Homo sapiens: one gene and its partner. The protein of the gene in region 1 interacts with the protein of each later gene in a biochemical or structural test. Each region holds a gene or a part of one and is shown in the gene's direction. Other genes may lie near its edges.

Evidence for each region.
Region 2: the proteins of RPP14 (region 1) and RPP30 form a complex in vitro, tested with the Homo sapiens proteins (one study listed by BioGRID).

Annotation. Positions count from the first base shown.
Region 1 is NC_000003.12:58,312,492-58,316,314, forward strand, and holds part of RPP14 (ribonuclease P protein subunit p14), read left to right. Parts: intron 1-3,230; exon of another isoform or gene 3,231-3,328; intron 3,329-3,823. UniProt on the Homo sapiens protein: Component of ribonuclease P, a ribonucleoprotein complex that generates mature tRNA molecules by cleaving their 5'-ends.
Region 2 is NC_000010.11:90,892,364-90,896,186, forward strand, and holds part of RPP30 (ribonuclease P protein subunit p30), read left to right. Parts: intron 1-2,411; coding exon 2,412-2,528; intron 2,529-3,090; coding exon 3,091-3,120; intron 3,121-3,516; coding exon 3,517-3,554; intron 3,555-3,823. UniProt on the Homo sapiens protein: Component of ribonuclease P, a ribonucleoprotein complex that generates mature tRNA molecules by cleaving their 5'-ends. Also a component of the MRP ribonuclease complex, which cleaves pre-rRNA sequences.

The DNA of each region.
Region 1 (3,823 bases):
GTGATGAATTTTGTTGGGTTTATTCTAATATGCCTTCTGTTTGACAAGGAACACGTTAGACAAATGATTGTTGTAGCACAGTGCTACTCAAAGTGTGGCCTAGACTGGCACCTGCAAACTCTTTTCCCATCTTGAAGAGATAAGGAATTTGCAGCAGAACCACTTTTAATGAGAAAGTCTCCTTATGGGCCAGGCGCAGTGGCTCACTCCTATAATCCCAGCTCTTCGGGAGGCTGAGATGAGCAGATCACTTACAGTCAGGAGTTTGAGACTAGCCTGGCCAACGTGGTGAAACGCTTTCTCTACTGAAAATACAAAAATTAGCTGGGCATGGTGGCGCACGCTTGTAGTCCCAGCTACTTGGAAGACTGAGGCAGGAGAATTGCTTGAACCTGGGAGGCAGAGGTTGCAGTGAGCAGAGATCACGCCACTGCATTCCAGCCTGGGCAACAGAGCAAGACTCTGTCTCAAAAAAAAAAAAAAAAAAAAGGGCTGGGCACGGTAGCTCACGCCTGTAATCCTAGCACTTTGGGAGGCCAAGGCAGGCAGATCCCAAGGTCAGCCGATCAAGACCATCCTGGCTAACACGGTGAAACCCTGTCTCTACTAAAAACACAAAAAGCCGGGCGCAGCGGCGGGCACCTGTAGTCCCAGCTACTCGGGAGGCTGAGGCAGGAGAATGGCATGAACCCGGGAGGTGGAGCTTGCAGTGAGCCGAGATCACGCCACTGCACTCCAGCCTGGGCGACAGAGCGAGACTCGGTCTCAAAAAAAAGGCTCCTCATGAAAAAAAGATGAACTGAACTAAACATGGTGATTAATGATACTATTGGTTTATATTCTGATTCAACTCATTATTTTGTCATAGACCAGCATTTTAAGCAACTTTGAGAACAGAAGTAGAGAAGTAGAGTTTCAGAAGTTGAAAGAAGACAGGATGCTCAGGAAATTATTTTGTGATTCATATAGTCTGTCAAATCAAAATATGCTAAGTACCTCATCAAAATTTAAAACTTTTACTCTGCAAAAGACTCTTAAGAGGATGAAAGGGCCAGGTGCAGTGGCTCACAGCTGTAATCCCACCACTTTTGAGAGGCCAAGCGGGTGGATCACTTGAGCCCAGGAGTTCCAGGCCAGCCTGGGTATCTGGTGAAACCCCATCTCTACAAAACAATTTGAAAAATTGAGCTGGGTGTGGTGGTGTGCACTGATAGTCCCAACTAGTCAGGAGGCTGAGGTGGGAGGATTGCTTGAGCCCAAGAGCTCAAGGTTGCAATGAGTGGTGATCACACCTCCATGGCTGGGGGTAGGGGTGGGAAAGGATGAAAAGATGAATTACACACTGGGGGAAAATATTTGTAAACCACGTATCCAACAAAGGACTATAGTGTCTAGAATATATAAATGACATTTGGCCTGGTGCAGTGGCTCATGCCCGTAATCCCAACACTTTGGGAAGCCAGGGCAGGAAGATTGCTTGAGGCCAGGAGTTTGAGGCTGGCTGTGGTAAACTATGATTGCACTACTGCACTGCAGCCTGGTCAACAGAACAAGACCATGTCTCAAAAATAATAACACATGGGGCGTGGTGGCTCATGCCTGTAATCCCAGCACTTTGGGAGGCCGAGGTGGGTTGATTGCCTGAGGTCAGGAGTTTGAGACCATCCTGGCCAACATGGCAAAACCCTGTCTCTGCTAAAGCTATAAAAACTAGCCGGGCGTGGTGGCACATGCCTGTAACCCCAGCTACTCGGGAGGTTAAGGCAGGAGAACCACTTGAACCTGGGAGGCGGAGGTTGCAGTGAGCTGAGATCACACCACTGCACTCCAGCCAGGGTGACAGAGAGAGACTCTGTCTCAAAAAAATAATAGTAATAATAATAAAAAAGAAGTATCAGAACTCAACCAAACAATTCAATTAGAAAATGGGCAAAAACATTAACAGACATTTTGCTAAAGAGAATGTGTGGTTGGCAAAGAAGCACATGGAAAGATGTTTAACATTAGCCATTAGGGAAATGCACATTAATGACACAATGAGATACCACTGTGTACCTAGCAGAATGACTGAAATAAAAAATGACAACACTAAGTGCTAGCAAGAATGCAAAGAAACTAGATCACTCATACACTACAGTGAGTATGTAAAATGGTGCAGCCACTCTGGAACATAGTTTGGCAGTATTTTTTTTTTTTTTTTTTTTTTTTTGTTGAGATGGAGTCTCGTTCTGTCACCGGGCTGGAGTGCAGTGGCACAATCTTGGCTCACTGCAACCTCCGCCTCCCAGGTTCAGGCGATTCTCCTGTCTCAGCCTCCCAAGTAGCTAGGACTACAGGCACACACCACCACACCCAGCTAATTTTTTTGTATTTTTAGTGGAGACGGGGTTTCACCATGTTGACCAGGATGGTCTCAATCTCTTGACCTTGTGATCCGCCTGCCTTGGCCTCCCAAAGTGCTGGGATTACAGGTGTGAGCCACCATGCCTGGCCAGCAGTATCTTTAACAAACTAAACGTGCATCTGCCATAGAACCCAGCATTAGCACTCCTGGGCATCTGTTCCAGAGGACTGAAAACTTAAGTTCACACAAAAGCCTGTACATGAATATTCATAGCAGCTTTATTTTTAATAACAATGAAACTGAAAACACCCCATATATCCTTCAATGGGTGAATAAACTGTGGTACATTCCTACTATGGAATATACTCGACAGTGAAAAGGAATGACCTATTTAGACACAATATGAATGAATCTCCAGAGAATTATGCTGAGCGAAAAAAAGCCAATCCCAAAACATGACATACTGGGTGTTTCCATTTATAGAAGACTCTTGAAATACTATATATAATCTGGAGAAAGGTTAGTGGTTGCTGGGGTGAGGAGTAGGGGAGGAGGGGTGGGTGTGGCTGTAAAGGGTAGAATAAGGGAGTCTTATGATGGTACAGTTCTTTATCATTGATTGTGGTGGTAGTTATATGAAGCTACCTATGTGGGAAAATTACATAGAGCCACACACAGGTATAAATAGGAGTAGACATACAATTGGTAAAATCTGAATAACCTCTGGTTTGTACCAATACCAGTTTTGTAGTTTTGCTACTGTACTGTAGTTACGCAAGACATTGACATTGTGGGAGGCTGGATGAAGAGTGCATGAACCTCCCTGTACATTTCTTTTTTATTTATTTATTTATTTTTGAAACAGAGTTTCGCTCTTCTTGCCCAGGCTGGAGTGCAATGGCACGATCTTGGCTCACCGCACCCTCCGCCTCCCAGGTTCAAGCGATTCTCCTGCCTCAGCCTCGCAAGTAGCTGGGATTACAGGCATGTGCCACCACACCCGGCTAATTTTGTATTTTTAGTAAAAATGGGGTTTCTCCGTGTTGATCAGGCTGGTCTCAAACTCCCAACCTCAGGTGATCCGCCCTCCTTGGCCTCCCAAAGTGCCGGGATTACAGGCGTGAGCCACTGTGCCCGGCCAATCCCTGTACATTTCTTTGTGATCTCTTGTGAGTCTATAATTTTTTTAAATACAAAATTTTAAAAAAAAATATCCCTGTGTGTACCTGTGTGTCAGGTAGAAAACCTCGTTCCTGGGGTTTATATAGCTGCAAACAAACAGACATGGCCTCTGCCACATGGACTAATGTCTTGGTTCTTGTAGTAGGAAAACATGTTGGACAATTAGTGACAAGAATAAAGGGAATTATGAAAGAGAAAGTATGGTGTCCTGTACAAGAAAGAACATAGCAAGCTGACTTTGTCTCATCTTGAAGATCAGTCAAGGAACAATTTAAATGAAGGCTCAAAGGATGAGAG
Region 2 (3,823 bases), on another chromosome or scaffold:
ACATTATTTTTAATTTTTCTTTTTCAAGAATTCCTATAGCAGTTTTAAAGTGAACTTGATTAATGTACCAAGATGAAAATCAGAACTTTTTCCTTAAAAAATAATTATGCTGATAATATCCTTTTTTTCTCCCCTCCCCCCGCAAAAGTTGTTTTTATTTTGATTTGGTACCCACAAGGGTCTAGAAATTTAGATTCAGTCAATTAGGAATATTTCGAGATCTAAGCATCCAACTCTATATATCATTCACCTCTTTCATTTATTTCCCCTCTTCATCATCCTGTTGCCTTGTATTATCGTTCCACAACTAGAAGGATAAGGAAAAGAAATACAGGTCAGCCTCTTCAGCTAATTAGTAGTTTTGGTAAAATATATAGCCAAGGAGATGGCTGATAATATGGCTAAAAGGGATGTTTTTACTTATCTGTGGTTTTTGGTTAGCCAGGTGCACCGAGGTTCCTTTGATGATGGATCATCTATAATGAACAACGTTATCACAGGACATCTTCTCCATAAGCTGCTATTTATTCACTCAAAATATAAATATATTATACACCTTTTATGTAAAAGGCAGTCTAGCTCTCAAGAAGTGTGCAAGCTTGGCAGAGCCAATGAGATACACGTTCAACTAGGACAGAAATACTATCTTAACAAATGTCATTCCCAGAAATAATCAACACAGGTGAAAGAATTAGAGATGGGGAAAAGTCAAAAAATGAGAGAGGGAAAGGTTGCAGTGTGGAAAATAGCATTTAAATTCTAACCAAACTAGAATCAGACATATAGGAAAATCTAAAATAAAATCTGGGAGCCTTGAAGCCGGAGGAAGAATTAAGGAAATCTGTGTTCGGGAGGGAAAAGCAGAAGGGGCCTTCAAGTACAACTGAATTAAATCAAGATGGACTGCCAGTTCTAGAAAAAGACAAGTTTCTCCATTCCCCGTAAATGCTCAGGAGTAAACCCCAGTAGTCACAGCTGGGCCAGTCCCAACTTATACTCTGGGCAATCGAAACTCATTTGCCAAGCAGAGACTTGGACCATACTGCCTAGAACATGCCTACCATTCTTTCTTTATTCTTTTGAAAGAGTACTGCCACTCAAGTGACTTTTGCAATTGAGAGTCTGATTATCATCTCTATGCTGAAAATCCTTCAGATGTTTTCTCCATTAGGAATAATCCTCATCACCAGCTCTAAAGGCCTGCACAGTTGGCCCTTCCCATCCTCTTTAGCCTGTCTTCCTCATTATTTTTCTCCAGCATTTGACCTTCCCTACGTGCTGCCATGCTGCAACCTTGAAGACTTTTGCATGCTCTGACCTCCCTCTGAAAGTGCACCTTCCTCTACTATTTAACTGCTTAATTTCTTCCTCAACCCTAAACTTCTCCTTGATAGCACTTAACACAGTTGAAGTTTTGTATTTTTGTGTGGTTATTGATCATCTCCCCCACTAAAATGTAAGCTTTTAGAAGGGAGAAACCATCTCAGCTTTTGCACGTAGTGGGCTTAAAACATCTTTTGTGAATGGATGCAGACATTTAGGTGCTCATTAGGAAAGCTGAACAGTATGGTGGTTAATTTCAATATCATTTCCACTCATCTACTTACCTGTGGATCCCTCTGTAGTAAGAGTACATTAAATAAAGAAGTTTCTGTTTCTCATGAAAAAAGCCAAGCTTGTATGGTGAGCTGGGCAAAATCTTCAAGGGCACTTCCATCTTTTTTGCTGTGCGGCTATAAGCCCAGTGAAAAATCAGGGGCTTTATTACTAAAGAAAAAGGAGAGGACAGATATCTGGGCAATTTGCAGGCTTTGCAGTAATGCTTTATAAAGGTATTGTAGTAAGGATTAAATATTATATATAAGACTCTCTTAGCATATAGTCAGCACTCAATTAACTATGGCTGTTATTCTCTCTTCAACATATAGAGAATAAATTACTTACCTGAAAGACCTTCCTGCCCTTGGTTCTTTGGGCTTTTTTCAGCTCTTCATTTCTTTGTCTCTTTGTGCATTCATAGGTCAGATTACTTGGTTTACTATGTTTGTATACAGTTTACTGTAAATGTAGGGAGTACATTTCTGTTTTCCTTTTGATAGTTCATGGAGTAGTAGCCCCTCTCTCACGCCATTGGGACTTTGTTCTTCTTAGCCTCTTCATAATTCCTGTTTATGTAAAGTCAGCTTCCCCACAGCCAAGTTAAACTCTCTTAATCAAGTAGAGCCACGGATTTATTTTCTTCTCCTTGTGGGTGGTGCCATTTGAGTGTTGATCTGTCTTTCATAAAGCTGTACCTTGACATGTAAGGGGTCAGTAGTAGGGAGTGAGGAGGGATGTGAAGAGAGAATCAGTGAAAATGAAGTAGGCCAGTGCATGCTTATCTCTGACAGTTCTCTTTATTTCCTGTGAAGGCGATTGACCGAGGCCTGGCTTTTGAACTTGTCTATAGCCCTGCTATCAAAGACTCCACAATGAGAAGGTATACAATTTCCAGTGCCCTCAATTTGATGCAAATCTGCAAAGGAAAGGTATGGTTCTATAATTTTAGGATGTTTTTCGCATCTGGCAGTTTATTATTAGTAGTACACTGGAATTGTCAAACTGACTCCTTTTCCTTAAAGCAGAATGTTCTCATAGCATAGGAACAAATTCTGCCATTTCAGTGAGCTCTGCAAATTTTAAGGGAAAGAAAAATACCAAGGGAAGAATAATGTAAGGGAGAAAAAGATGTGTTGGAAGCCATATCTTTTGATAAAAATTTGCAATTTACATACTGTGAAAGAAAAGTCTAGAATAACAATGGTCCTCACTGAGTTGAATTAAGATATGTGACCTTTTCATCTTGTTTTTTAAACTTAATTCACCTTTACTAAGATCTGTTAGGAAAACATATTTTGTTTTTTATTACAGATTGCCTTTAGTTTGACATGAAGTCTTTTCATTTTTTTCACCTTAATTATTTACCTTATCTTTAAAAGAAGTTGGTATTTGAGCCTTAAATGTTAAAATATGATTACTGGCTATTTATATTATGAAACTCCTTTTTTTACATTTATCTAAGATTAATATTAGTCACTTTCTATTTTGTAGAATGTAATTATATCTAGTGCTGCAGAAAGGGTAAGTCTAGCATGAAGTACTTTGTTTTCATCTTTCAGGTTATAAAACTTTTCAGTTTCTAGGGGATAAATTAAAATAGTAAATGAATATTTGTTGCATTTTTTTCTATTTTAACTGCATTTGCTCATTGTAATTGCTAAATAGTAAAATTTATCCCCACTTTCTTTAGGCTTCAACTTTTGTTTATATAATCAGTTTTTCTTTTATACTGTTACAAAATGCCTTTCAAGCTTCTCTTATATTTTCAAAAGCTATGAAACCCATCAAAATTATAAGGACTTAAATTTATGTAATTTTTTTATTTTTGGATACTTAAATTTTCTATTAATTTGCTATAAGTCATTGAAATGTTATAAATAATTTTCTCATATCTACTCTTTGTTCATTTTATTTCAGCCTTTAGAAATAAGAGGGCCATATGACGTGGCAAATCTGTATCCTTTTCTGAGTAAAAAGTTGTTGACATTGTCTTTCAGGAAATTTTGAATTTGAAGTCGTATTATAGTTGAACATGTATTTTTCTCAACCTTTTACTGTAAGTTTACCAATTAATAACTTCAAAAATAAATTATATAACATTATAGAGAGCTTTATGCTTCTGTTTTTTAATTAATCATGAGATAGAAAAGAGGGAATGAGGGACTTCATATGATAAAAGCTTAGAGTTAAATGAGTCTTTTCTCAGATGCATGTTCCAGTTGGA